2 linked regions of the Homo sapiens genome follow. The protein of the gene in region 2 interacts with the protein of the main gene of each other region in a pairwise test. Each region holds a gene or a part of one and is shown on either strand. Other genes may lie near its edges.

Region 1 (7,027 bases), on a different chromosome or scaffold from region 2:
TGGCTTATTTGATGCCTTTTCAACATGGATCCACTCACTTGAGCCCAGGAGTTCAAGACCAGCCTGAGCAACATAGACCCCACCTCTATATAAAAAAATAAATAAAATAAAAATACAAATGAATCCATGAAAGCAGTTTGTATGTAGAATTTTTAAAAGGCTCTAGGGCCAGGCGCGGTGGCTCACGCCTGTAATCCCAGCACTTTGGGAGGCTGAGGCGGGGGGATCACGAGGTCAGGAGATCGAGACCATTCTGGCTAACACCGTGAAACCCCGTCTCTACTAAAAATACAAAAAATTAGCCGGGCGTAGTGGCGGGCACCTGTAGTCCCAGCTACTTGGGAGGGTGAGGCAGGAGAATGGCGTGAACCTGGGAGGCGGAGCTTGCAGTGAGCTGAGATCATGGCACTGCATTCCAGCTTGGGCGACAGAGCGAGGCTCTGTCTCAAAAAAAATAAACAAATAAAAATAAAAAAATAAAGAAAAAAGGCTCTAAAGATGTTTGCTGTTATTTCTACAACTCGAATGCCGTGGTTTGCAACAAGGGGCAGATGTTTTATTTTGCAATGTCTGGAAACTTTATTTTTTTGATGGAGTTTCACTCTCGTTCCCCAGGCTGGAGTGCAATGGAGCGATCTTGGCTCACTGCAACCTCTGCCTCCTGGGTTCAAGCGATTCTCCCGCCTCAGCCTCCCAAATAGCTGGGATTACAGGCGTGCACCACCACGCCCGGCTAATGTTGTACTTTTAGTAGAGACAGTGTTTTACCATGTTGGTCAGGCTGGTCTCGAACTCCTGAACTAATTTGATCTACCTGCCTCAGCCTCCCAAAGTGTTGGGATTACAGGTGTGAGCCACCATGCCTGGCCTGGAAATCTTTTTGATTGGTTGTCCCAACTGGGGTGGTGGCACTGGCACCTAGTAGGCAGTGTTCAGGGATGCTGCCAAACATCCCTGGATGCACTGGATGGTCCCCACCACAGAGAATAACCCGGTCCGTATTGCTAGTAGTGCTGGGGTCAACCCTGCAGTTGTGTGTTGTGCTCCACTGAAGTTCAGGTGCTGGATACTGAATGAGGAATGAGCACCCGGGTCCAGATCCAGTTCATGTGCTGACTGCTGTGTCACCTGCAGAAAGCCACGTCAGCACCCCGCACCTCAGCACTCGGTGGGTCCATTTTTAACTAGAGATGACAGGCACCTGCTCTCTCACCTGGGGCTCGCAGGGAAGGCAGTGCGCTACTCATATGGGAGCTCCGGCATTTGGACGGCACAGTCTCCTTATTAAATATCTCAGTGACCTTAGTCATATTGTTAGTGAAATGGCAATTAGTTTTTCTAACTTTGGAGGGGGTAATAGATTAAGATTTCTGCACATAATACACAAAGACATTTAATATGGCTCCGTGGCTGCCTCTGAGGCCACGCTTCTCCAGTGGCAGTTCTACTGGTGGCGGAATGATATTTTTTGTTGTTTGGTTTGGTGGTTTGTTTGTTTTTTACCGCAAATTCATTGTCTGGGTTTTTCTCTCCCTTCCGGATTGGCCGAGAATATTCAAATCGCTGGACCTCGTTCACCCTGTAAAAACTGTACAGAGACAGACAGATCATTAGATATTTAACCCGGCAAATAGCCAATTTGCTTTTGGACACGGGGTCTGGCCTTAGAACATGTCACTGCCTCCTGTAAAATGTCCCTAACCTTGACCTGAAGCCATCGCCTTGGTGTCCTCTCCCAGCCAGGGAAATGTTGGCAGGTGGAAAAATTAACTTGAGTTTTTGCCTCTTCCCTGTCCCTGCCAACCCTCGAGGGAAAACAGAAGCTGAGTAAGAGTGAAATGAGCAAAAACAGAGGAAAGGTGAAGCGAAGGAGAGAGAAAAAAGCTTTTGTGTTCAACGTATGTGTTTATTATTATTTTAAAAAAGTATTACATACCTTAGTTTCAGATCTACAAAGCACAGATTTTGCAACCACCCCAAGAGTGACACACAGGAAACATAAGTAACCTGCCTCCGCGGTCGGGGTACGAGGCAGGCTTTCCGCATGCACAGGGCAGGGCGTGGAGAGACTGAGACTGATTTCTCCCCTGCACTGAAATGCAGGCAGGCTTCCACAGCAAAAGAAACTACTGCATCTGAGAAGGCTCTAAGCGTCACTATTTGCTTAAGGCCTCTGAAAAAAAATGTTGCAACCCTTAAAATGTATGCCTTGCGAGAGCAATCATTTGTAAATAAACAGGGTCCCAGTTTATTTCCCATTATTGCTGATGCAAGGTCAAAGAAACGATGAAAGGTTAAAGAAACCACCAAACTTCAGGAAGCAAAATGAAGCTGATCCTAAGGAATATGAGGTCATCAAAGAGATTAATATTTTCACCAGAACATGGATCAAACAGAACAGAAAAGTCTTAATATCAAACACATCTGCTAAAGCAGGTCTTTCTATGCCATTGCTAAGTCAGGTGCGATACAACTGACAGGCAGAAAATCTCACTCAAATATGGACAGTTGACTCAGGAGGTTTAAAAGCCCCCTCATAACCCTACATTATGGAATTGCTGTGCTGTAAGGCTGAAGGGTTCTCCTGTGTGTCACCAGGAGCAAATGTGCAAATCCCATTTCCCGCCTTCTAAAATGCAAACATTCAGGCCACACTCACATGTATGAACTTGGCTTTGCTGGGAACAGGCAGGACTTGTGCACTGCTGTGAAGTTCCCTAGGGGATTGTACCCCACAGGGCAGGTCTATAAAGGAGACCAGACGGCCTCCACTGCCCTCTTAGGTTTTTGCTGTCAGCTGACTTTGGGAAAGGAATAGGCTTTGCACGCTCCCAGCACATGGATTAACATCTCCTGTCACTTTTTTTGGATGCTGAAAATAATTAGCTTCCCTTGCTCTTCAAAGAGGACAGAAAGAGCATTTGGAAAGCGAATCCATGGCCAAAGTCCGTCCTTTAAAAGGTGGAATTATTAGCAAGAGATCTGTACACAGCCTCTTACAACCCTCACGTTGGGTAAGAAAAATGGGATTATTACCTTACAATCTGCTCTGACACTGGCCTGTGAAACTTAGGAGGCAGATCGAGTTTGGGCTTCACTGTGAAGCACTGAATATCTGAGGTGAGGGGGTTAAGGATCACTAAGGCAGCATAGACATCAACCATGAGAGAGGCCCCCCACCACACCCAACCACCCAAATGAATGGCATCACCATGGTTTCAGAGTTGATGAGGTTGTCTTAAAGGATACACTGGCCAGGAGAGTTTTTAATATCGTCGCCTGGTGGAGATGTTGTCTTCATTTTCTCGGCGTTTGGAAACTGAGTTAAGAGCCGAGCCTCAAAATCTTCCCGGCGCTCATACTCTTTCCCTCGGTAAATGAAAACTTTTCCCTGAAAAGGGTGACATTCATTTCATAACACCACAGAGAAAGGGCCAGGAAGAGTTCACATGCAATATGCTGGCCTTAAAATATGCCTTACGGGTTCTTACAAAATGTCATTAAATTTAAGAACAACTTGTAATTTTTATTTTTTTTTGTACTTGCGTTGGCTTTGTTAATCAAGAACACATGGTCATCAAGCATGTAAGTTAATACTGTTTAAGAAGCACTCAGCACTGCGCTACTAACATCTGTGATATGTTTTCATCTTGACAGTAACAACTGATTTAAAAACTATATGAAAAACCAAATGAGCACTCAGAAGCCCACACTAGAATGGGCATGAAATGGTTAGAAGGGGGCAAGGCAGCCAGGACAAGTGGATAATGATGTCCACACTTTTTCTTGTTTTTGTTTTCTTCTCAGGTAGGCCCTAATGAAGTTGTTTTCATTCTGCCATAAGGAATTTAAGAGAGCTTGAGCTAAGGTGGGGCCCCAGCACCTGCACACGGCCGCCGGGCGCTGACTCCTGTGAGACACAGCCGAGGCGAGCAGAACCCGAGGGGAAGGGATGCAGACCAGAGCCGAGAGCTACTAAGTTCCTGGCCTCCCCCGAGTGAGTGACTGGCGATGGACGGAGAGCAGGACTTCCCTTCCTGCATTCAGAATGTGTGTGCAGGTCATTATTCATCAACACATGTCAAGATAAAACATACAGAGCTCTTCTTGGAAGGGCTGGGTTTGGTCCATCTCAAATGACACTTTTGTCACCTCCATAAATTCCAAGATGGAATGTCAGTCCACTGGGGTTGTTATAGACGGCTAGGCTAGACTAGGCAGTCCGGGGCGGGGAGGGGAGTTAAGTAGGTAAGTGTTCTTCCTTCCACGAGGCTGTCTTGTTGAGGTCATTTCTGCCTGAGTGTGACACAGTCCTCTGTAAATATACCTGTAAGGAACGTTTTCCTTGCAAGATACAACAGGTCTCCGTTTTTTTCCCGATTTCAACACGTGTGTTCTGAGTGTGAACTCGGTCACAGAAAGGGGCCAATGAGTACCTAGTGTAATGCTGCTGCTGGTTTTGGAAGCCTTCTGCCTCCCCCCACCCATCCTGTCCCATCTGGGGCTGTCTCAACCGAAATGAAAACTGCCACAAGGAGAAGACAGCGAGCAGAAGCCACAGGGGTACAAGAAACAGAAGTCTGGGGTTGGGGGGGTAACACTTTCCAGGACGGGGCGTGGTTGCTGAGGTGCTTCTGTTCTTTGATCAGGGGACACGGGGGAAGAACCTCCAGGTTGGCTGCTCCCAAGTCAGCTGCAGCCCTGCCCCATCTGCAGTCATTCCTGGACAGGTGCCAGAGAGGGAGACGAACAGAGACAGAGACAGACAGAGAGGACAGCATTTTGCTGCATATTTTTACACTTACCCCCTAAAGACTAAGATTGAAGTCAAATTAAAATTTGTCTAACTAAAGGATTTTCAAAAGGATTAAGAGAGATTCTATGACACTGAATCAATTGATCCCTGCTGTGGTCAGAACGTTTGTAGTCCCCAAAATTCAGATGTTGAAACCTAATCACCAAGGTGATAGTATTAGAAGGTGGGGCCTCTGGAAAGGCTCCACCCTTAGGAAAGTCATCAGTGCCTCAGAAAAGAGGCCCCAGAGAGCTGCCTGCCCTTTCCACCCCATGAGAACAGGTGGAAGGCGCCATCTATGAGGAATGGCCCTCCCCAGACTCCAAATCTGCTGGCACCTTGATCTTGGACTTCCCAGCCTCCGGAACTGTGAACAATACATTCCTGTTGTTTATAAAGTACCCAGTCTAAGGTATTTTGTTACAGCAGCCCCAGTGGACTAAGACAGTCCCCTTCCCTTGCCCCAGCTTATTCTGAGTTCTCCTAAATCGCTAAAAAAAGAACCAGTTTAAGAATTGAATTCTTTTTCACTTTGTGCTTAGATATGTCTTAGAAGTACCATTATGGAAGAAAAATGCTCTATTTCTCCCCACCGCCCCCCCGAAAAAAAAAAGTCAAGCAGAAACCAGATAATATGTCATCTTAAATACAGTCTGAGCAACTTCTAAGGCTTCTATATAAAGCCACGCACTTCCAAAATTCAGTAAGATTTAATGGATAACAGACTACTATCAAACTAGCAAGCATTTTTCTTATGCTTTACATGAGAAAACATAATAATAAAAATGTATATAAAGACTTTAATAGAAAAAAGCTAGTGAGTTATAGGTAAAAACACGAATAACATTTTCTGAAAATGTCAGTTACTTTGCATTCTGAAGTGATCCTTTTGAACATGAAAACAAGGGGGAAATGTACATATAGTCAAAGATATTTATTCCTTGTAAGGTCTATAAATATCAACATGAGCACAAAAAACAGTGAGACCAATTTTTAGAGAAAAACAAAGCAAAAGGGACAGCTAGTCAGTTCTTGGAGGCTCCTCTCCAGCAGGGCATGAAGCACGCAAACATTCTGCCCACGTTTTGGTAACTGCCAGTGTCATTGGCAGATTGACCCCTGCCAGCTCATCTGTGAAGTGTGATAAATATATTGCTGCAGACCCACAGAATGATCCAGGTGTGGCGGGAAAGTCAGTTCAATATTAATCGAGCCTGTTAACCTCCATTCAGACTTTTCATTTTGTCCTTTTGGTGGTGGAGATGACCCAGCACCGCCCCTGGAGCCTGCTGTGTGTGAGCTCCTGGCACAACCTGGCATCTATTGGCTCGGGAGCTGCAACGTGTCCTCCGCACCCGGCACTGCCCTCACATAATATTCCACGCAGGCTGCTCCCTTGCTCTGGATTCTGGGATAACCATCCTGCACGGATCCAGAGTTGGTGCCTACATACCAGAGGTAGATCTCCATCCACAGGGGCCACACGCACCATCTAACACCAAGCACTGCACAAGGCTGCATGGCTTAGGGTCCACCTGCCTCCCTTTCCTAAAGATGTATGTTCCGGAGCACACACACACTCGAATTAAAGCCTTTAGCAACAGTAAGTGGCTTTAACTCCAAGCTCATTCCACCCTTCAGCTTTGTTTTTTATTGAGAATGAAGCTAATTTCAAATTTGTCTCTAATTTAGAGCTTGTAACTAAGCCTCCTTTATTCATTCTTTGGAAGGGAAGACTTTGTTCAGAATCTGTGCTTCTGATCAACCGCTGTCTTTGCTGCACGATGAAGGCAAGAGGAGAAGCTGACCAGCAGTGACCAGGAGTGACCAGGACAGGGCCAGACGCCTCCGTCACCAGGCAGGACACTGAGTGGGCAGCCAGCCTCACCTCCTAGAGCAGGCCAGAACTGTGGTGCTCCCCTGTCAACAGTGACATGCCCTTCCTAAGGGGAGGTCTGTATCCTCTGGGTGCCGTGATGAAGAGATGTCACACTATTAGTGACTCCCGTGGAGTCGGAAACACAGGACCCCAAATGAACAACGTCTGGAACCAGGGGAATCTCCCAACTGGTTTCAACTGCCCCAGACGGCTGTGCTCAAGACACAGAGCTTCTGCTTCCTAAAGCCAGAGCAATCACACATAGTCTCCTAGGATAAGAGAAAACCAAGTGTCCAAAAAAAAAAAAAAAAAGTCATAAGAAATATCAGGAAATCATGACCCACTGGTCAATG
Region 2 (7,027 bases):
TCTAAGCACGTTTTGTGCAAGAGACAGAATTTTGCAAGAACTGCATGCCTGGTTGCCATTTAAAGATCATAACAAATGTGTCTGATTTTCAGCCTGTAGCAAAATTGTGGTGATGCTGAATTTGAGCTGGAAGGAATTTAATGTGTGTTGGCTATATGCAATAAGCGACTATATAGACAGCCTAAAATTAATACCATATTTATAGCCAAAAGCCCGTTTTATAATTTGGCATTCTGAAAGTAGAATATGTAAAATGGTTTTTACTTTAACTAGTAATTATTGTACAGCTGGAAAGAAAAGTGGAAGCATGCCAACAGAACAGAAAACAACCTCTTAAAATTAAAATGAAATGATGGCCAAGTTTTAGAAAAACACTGGCTGTAGATACTAAAAGTTCACAATTTCAGTTTATATAGTCATTCAATCACAGAACTTAAGAATACTTATTATTCCTTTAAAAAATGTGTTCATTTTTATGAAGCTCTAAACATCCTCAGACTAGCCTCTGAAACTCAGGAGGACCCAGTTTACCATCCTATCTATCTTTCATAAATGATGATAGAAAGTTATGAGATTGTCTGCTTGATATCACCCAGTAATGATTTCTGGAGGTCACAAAGGGGCCCCACTGTTCCCTTTTCTCAGTCTGTACTCAGATGGTGAGTGGTTCTCAAACCCTTTGGTCTCAGGAACTATGGATTGATACTGACTGTATTAGAAATTGTAATTGAGAAATTTTTAAATACTTACTGATTTATTTAAAAATAATGTCTATTACATGTTAACATAAATAATCTTTTTTTATGAAAACTATTTTCCAAAAGTATTTTCTTTTTAGTGAGAAGAGTAGTACATCTCTTCATAGCTAATTTAAGAGAATAGTTGGGTTCTCATCTGTGTTTTTATTCATATTTTTTTTGCGTCACCCCAGGGTTCCCTAGGCCACACCTTAAGAACCCATATACCTGGAGAATGAGGGGCTCTTAAGTCAACAATGGACAACTTTCCATTGCTGTATCTTAGTAATGAGTTAACATTCAGAACGATGGCATTAAAGGAGTTTCTCAACCTCAGCACTATGACGTTTTGGGCCAGATGATTGTTGCAAGGGACTCTCCAGTGCATTGCAAGATGTTTAGCAGCATCATTGGTTTCTACCCACTAGATGCCAGTTGCACTGCCCCACCTTCAGTTGTGATAAACAAAAATGTCTGTAGGCATTGCCACATACAATATCTGCTGATGGGCAAAATCCACTTGAAAACTACTAGATTAGAGAAAAGAACTGACAAAAGATGGAACACAATTACAGGTTTTTCTAAAAATTACTTTTCCACAATTATAGGGTAAAGTTTAAGCTGATTAAGTTTGAGTAATTTAAAAAGAAAAGAAAATATAACATCACTTTGGTAGGCAAATATTAAACCATGAAAATGTATAAAGAGGCCATGTAAGAATCTTATTCCTAAAGTAGATCCCAAATGACTAATGAAATAAAATAAGCAACATTTTATTTGTAGTAATTAGGGTATTAAATTAAAACCCTGGCTCTGGAATTAGGGTAAGAAAATTTGAAATTTGGATTTTTCTGTTTTTGAAGTTACTGTTAAAAACTATGGACCAGATATTGATGAACAGTCAATACAGTCAGCCCTCCATATCCATGGGTCCCCCATCGGTGAATTCAACTGAATGTCCATCAGAAATATAGTTAGGCTGAACATGTACAGACTTTTTTTTTGTCATTATTCCCTAAACAATACAACAACTATTTATATAGCATTTACATTGAATTAAGTTGTAAGTAATCTAGAGATGACTTAAAGTATATGAGAAGATGTGCATAGGTTATACACAAATAAACCATTTTGTACAAGGGACCTGTATAAGGGACTATGGAGTTTTGCTGTCAGTGGGGAGTCCTGGACCCAATCCCCCAAGAATACCAAGGCTGGATACTTCTCCTTTACCACAGCAATATCACTTTGGTAGGAAATTGTCCTACAAAAATACTTCCTAAAATAAAAACAAAATGTTGGCCGTGGTGGCTTATGCCTGTAATCCCAGCATTTTAGGAGGCTGAGGCAGGCAGATCACTTGAGCTCTGGGATTCAAGACCAGCCTGAGCAACATGGCAAAACTTCATCTCTACAAAATATCAAAAAATTAGCCAGGTGTGGTAGCCTTGCACCTGTTGTCTTAGCAACTCAGGAGGCTGAGGTGGGAGGATCACTTGAGCCCAGGAGGTTGAGACTGCAGAGAGTCATGATCATGCCACTGCACTTCAACTTGGGCAACAGAGCAAGACCCTGTCTCAAAAAATTGTTTTAATAAAATAAAAAAATACCAGAATGTTTCATTACAGCGTTGTTGATAATATCATGAAGAATTTTTTTAAACTAGCAATCACTTTAAAATCCATAATTAGATTAAATAATTTATGATATACTTTGATACTGTGAAGCTCTTCAGAACATTAAAGAATAAGATTTTAGCCGGGCATGGTGGCTCACACCTGTAATCCCAGCACTTTGGGAGACTGAGGCAGGTGGATCACCTGAGATCAGGAGTTTGAGATCAGCCTGACCAACATGGTGAAACCCCGTGTCTACTAAAAATACGAAAAAAGCTAGCTGGGCATGGTGGTGGGCGCCTGTAGTCCAGCTACTTGGGAGGCTGAGACAGGAGAATCACTTGAACCCAGGAGGCAGAGGTTGCAGTGAGCCAAGATCGCGCCACTGCACTCCAGGCTGGGCAACAGAGTGAGACTCCATCTAAAATAATAATAATAATATTTCATATATGCTATTATGGAAGGATATGTGTAGTTAATATTAAGTAAAAGGCAAGTTGCGGAATTAAACATCCCATTGCCATTAAGAAAAAAATAAAAAAATAGCACAGTCATTTCTCGTTTGCTGTTGAGGATTGGTTTCCAGGACCCCTTGTGAATACCAAAACCAACAGGCGCTCAAGTCCCTTATAGAAAATGGGATAGTATTTGCATATAACCTATGCACATTCTCTGCTATACTTTAAATCATCTCTGGATTACTTATAATAACCAATGTAATGTAAATGTTATGTAAATAATTGGTATGCTGTATTTAGGGTATATGACAAGAAAAAAAGTCTGCTCTGTTTTTTTTTTCCCCCAAATATTTTTAATTTGGGGTTGGTTGAATTGATGGATGCAGAACCCACGGATACAGAGAGCCAACTGTATGTATTTTGTGCGTGCAGTTGTATATGCCTAGAAATTTTCAGGAACTACTGGTGGCTTAACAGCTACCAATGGTTATATTCCAGAGAGGGGATCTGGGAGATGGGATGAGGGAGAGACTTTTACATTTTTCCTTTAAACACTTACATGTACCTGTGATTTTTGCCAGTATCTCCTTTGAATTTTAATACCTGGTTCTTTACACCTATTTAGGTCACGAGACATGTGTAGAACTGCTTTTAGAACAGGAAGTTTTCCAGAAAACGGAAGGAAATGCTTTTAGTCCATTGCATTGTGCCGTGTAAGTAAAGCCAGAATGAATCAGATTTGGTTTGAGTGTTTTAAGAAATACACCATTGCTGTGAGAATGATCACCTTGTTACCTTACACAGGATAAATGACAACGAAGGTGCTGCTGAGATGTTAATTGATACATTAGGTGCCAGCATTGTGAACGCCACAGATTCAAAAGGAAGGTAGGAATTCAACTATGTATTAAATAGTTTTAGCCAGGCACAGTGGCTCATGCCTATAATCCTAACAATCTGGGAGGCTGAAGTGGGAGGATGACTTGAAGCCAGGAGTTTAAGACCAGCCTGGTCAACATAGCAAGACCTGCATCTCTACCAAAAAAAAAAAAAGTGCATGATGATGCATGCCTGTGATCCCAGCTGTTCAGGAGGCTGAGGCAGGAGGATCACTTGAGCCCAGGAGTTTGAGGCAACAGTGAGCTATGATTGCACCACTGCATTCCAGCCTGGGTGACAGAGTGAGATCCCGTCTGGGCCCTACCCCCCAAAAAGGTTTTATTTTCAATAAGAAATAAATTTTAACTACTGGCTGGTGTGAGAGAATTTACAGAAAACCCATTATTAAAAGTTGATTTTTATATTTGCGAGTATAAATTGTTATAAGATCTCAATTATTTTTACATTATAAAAGGTTTTTCTATTTATAGATTTTAGGAAGTTTTCCTCCTTTAAACTATTTTAACATGTAAATATTTTTCCCTCTCTTTCGAATTTGTTTCCCAAAGATTATTGTTAACAAAGTTAACAGTTTTCTAAATGGGAATAAAGCCTGGAAAAAAGTCCAGCAGTTGTAATAAGTGGTGGTATTCAGATTAGGATTTATTTCTTTCAAAATTTCCTTTAATGATGTAATGTTATTTTAGCAATTTTGTAATTAATCTTTACTTCATACTAGTTCTAGTTTAATTAAAGCCTTCTGTATTATTGAAAGTACAAATTTCTATGAGAGAAATTAGTAAGCTCCATTGAGCCTATTTGTTTGTGTACAGGCAGTGCTTTTGTAGCCTAATATGTAAACCCTTAAAAACAGCATGTCACAAATTAAAGAATATTTTTCCAGCATATATAACATTCAAATTTAGTCATATATTTCAATTTTTCTTTATCACAGAACTCCTCTCCATGCAGCCGCCTTCACAGACCATGTAGAGTGTTTACAGCTGCTGCTCAGCCATAATGCTCAAGTCAATTCTGTGGACTCTACAGGGAAAACACCTCTTATGATGGCTGCAGAAAATGGACAAACAAATACAGTTGGTAAAGAAACTTCTTTAAAATTGTATTTTCCTAAGTATGTGTATCACTTATGTATAACTTAGATCCCAAGACTTCTGACTTCAACTAGTTATCTTACCACTCCTAAGACTTAAAACCTTTTACCTGTTTGCAATCCACATTTTCATTTAGGGATACAATGTTTTAGTTTGCCCTGACTATTGAGGAGTCTACTTTACCATGGCCTTATAACATAGTGGTTAAGAACACTGGCTGTGGAGTTGGATTGCCTGAATGTGAGTCCTAGATCTTTCAGCTAAATGACCTTATGCCTCAGTTTTCTCATTTATAAAATGAGAAAAATAACAGTATCTACTTGGTGTGTTGTTGTGAGGGTTAAATAAATTACTTTAAATCCAGAGCATATAAAACAGTATTTAAAATTTAGTGCACAGTCACAAAATAAATGTTAATTGCCATTGTTAGAGTGTGTGACTTATACAACAATATAATTGTCTCATACAATTATATGAAGATATATATGTTATATATTACAATATTTTTCTTGTACTTAAGTTTTTGTGAGAGGGACTTTTTTGCTTTGTATCTTCATTTCTCTACAGTGAGTTATTGGTAATCTAAGAAACATGTTCATAAACATAAGAATTGATGCACTTTTTCCTCCCAGAGATGCTGGTTAGCAGTGCTAGTGCAGAACTGACTTTACAAGATAACAGTAAAAATACTGCCCTCCATTTGGCTTGTAGCAAGGTATGTATACATCTTAAGAATATGTTTCCATTGTTAATATTAACAGTGACCTTAAAAGTTTTTTGACTTCACTAAAATGAACAACTCAGGACCAAACCTCTCTAATGATCACTGGTATTAGATTTCTTGAACAAAATTGACTTATAAGGCACCATGGCGTATCAAAGTCTCCAGTAAGCCAAATAAGTTTTGGAACACAAGTCTAAGCATAATTATCCTCTTTCCTTAATCTTAATTTTGTCCTCTTCTCCTACCCTCACTCCCAAGATGTGTTTGGGCAAATATTAAGATATTAGCCAGGAAAATTCATGGTATATGTATGGTGTTGTACATAATATATGGACTAGGATTGCAGATTGTTGGGTGTATAAATGTATCTTTAATGGTGCTCAAGTTTTTATAACTTATCTGCCACAATTATAGGGTCATGAAACTAGTGCCTTGTTAATACTGGAAAAGATAACAGATAGAAACCTCATCAATGCAACCAACGCAGCCTTGCAAACGTGAGTACTGTCAGTATCTAGTATAAACTTTGTGACCTATAATTATAAAAATGATAAATGGATTTTTTTAAACATGTGACTATTGGAATAGGTTTCATTAGTCATAGAAGCAATTTTAATAGTTTTACAACTGTCAAAACTCATTTCTAAAATGATCACAACTAAAAGCCATATTATTTAAAATGCTTTTGAACTGAAATTTTATTATAACATTGACAATAATGTATTTTTTTCCTTAATCCACCTACCTAATTTTCTGAAGGAAAGTAGTACTATTTTGTGTATTCTGTGGAAATCAACTGTAATAATATGTTACTTGAAACTAACAATAAATGAGGTAAGAAGCTTTATGTGTGTCTGTAAGCCAATAAGGTTTCTTAAAGAATCAAAATTTTTAATAATGTGAGCAGCCAACCTCCAGATAGACTGACAGAGATCTTACATCAGTGTCTCTCATTGTCCCTTGCTATTCCATTTTGAGGTTTAGTAAAGATAAAAATCTTAGAATATTGTTGCCCGTTCTGGGATTAGTCAGATCCCTTGAAGGTCCAAAAATTAGTCATGATGCTTGTAAGCTGTTTTCAAAGCCTATTAGAATTTATGCTACTGCAGTTTACAGTTTTTAATGTATAGTCTGTATCTTTACCAGCCTCATTCCTTAACAACGGAGGAATGCAATTTCAATGGTAAAATGTTTTTAAACATTGAAAAGAAAAGTAACAAAAGGATTGGGTGAAGGTAGGGACCTGTCGATGGGACCTATGGCTGAGCTTGATGCCGAGCTACACGTTGACAAGGTGTGACAGTGCACTGCACAGAGGTTCTGCTCTCCCTGCCCCCATCTTTGTTATTAGGACTAGGTTTCTCGAGTTTGTACCTCTTGGTCTTCACAAGTTGACAAAAATGCTCTTTGACAGCCAGGTGTGTATGTGTATGTGCATGCACATGCACATATGTGTACATGTATCATGTTTTTTCCCCTAGACCTCTGCATGTTGCTG

The links. The genes of interacting proteins can lie anywhere in the genome.
Region 1: the proteins of ANKRD28 (region 2) and DOCK1 interact in binary tests that used the Homo sapiens proteins (3 or more experiments, as listed by UniProt).

Annotation. Positions count from the first base shown.
Region 1 is NC_000010.11:127,405,401-127,412,427, reverse strand, and holds part of DOCK1 (dedicator of cytokinesis protein 1), read right to left. Parts: intron 3,392-7,027; coding exon 3,250-3,391; intron 3,116-3,249; coding exon 3,037-3,115; intron 2,174-3,036; coding exon of another isoform or gene 2,012-2,173; intron 1,589-2,011; coding exon 1,504-1,588; intron 1-1,503. UniProt on the Homo sapiens protein: Involved in cytoskeletal rearrangements required for phagocytosis of apoptotic cells and cell motility. Along with DOCK1, mediates CRK/CRKL regulation of epithelial and endothelial cell spreading and migration on type IV collagen.
Region 2 is NC_000003.12:15,675,973-15,682,999, reverse strand, and holds part of ANKRD28 (serine/threonine-protein phosphatase 6 regulatory ankyrin repeat subunit A), read left to right. Parts: intron 1-3,436; coding exon 3,437-3,524; intron 3,525-3,615; coding exon 3,616-3,699; intron 3,700-4,645; coding exon 4,646-4,791; intron 4,792-5,372; coding exon of another isoform or gene 5,373-5,386; exon of another isoform or gene 5,387-5,437; coding exon 5,438-5,520; intron 5,521-5,943; coding exon 5,944-6,026; coding exon of another isoform or gene 6,027-6,030; intron 6,031-7,010; coding exon 7,011-7,027. UniProt on the Homo sapiens protein: Regulatory subunit of protein phosphatase 6 (PP6) that may be involved in the recognition of phosphoprotein substrates. Involved in the PP6-mediated dephosphorylation of NFKBIE opposing its degradation in response to TNF-alpha.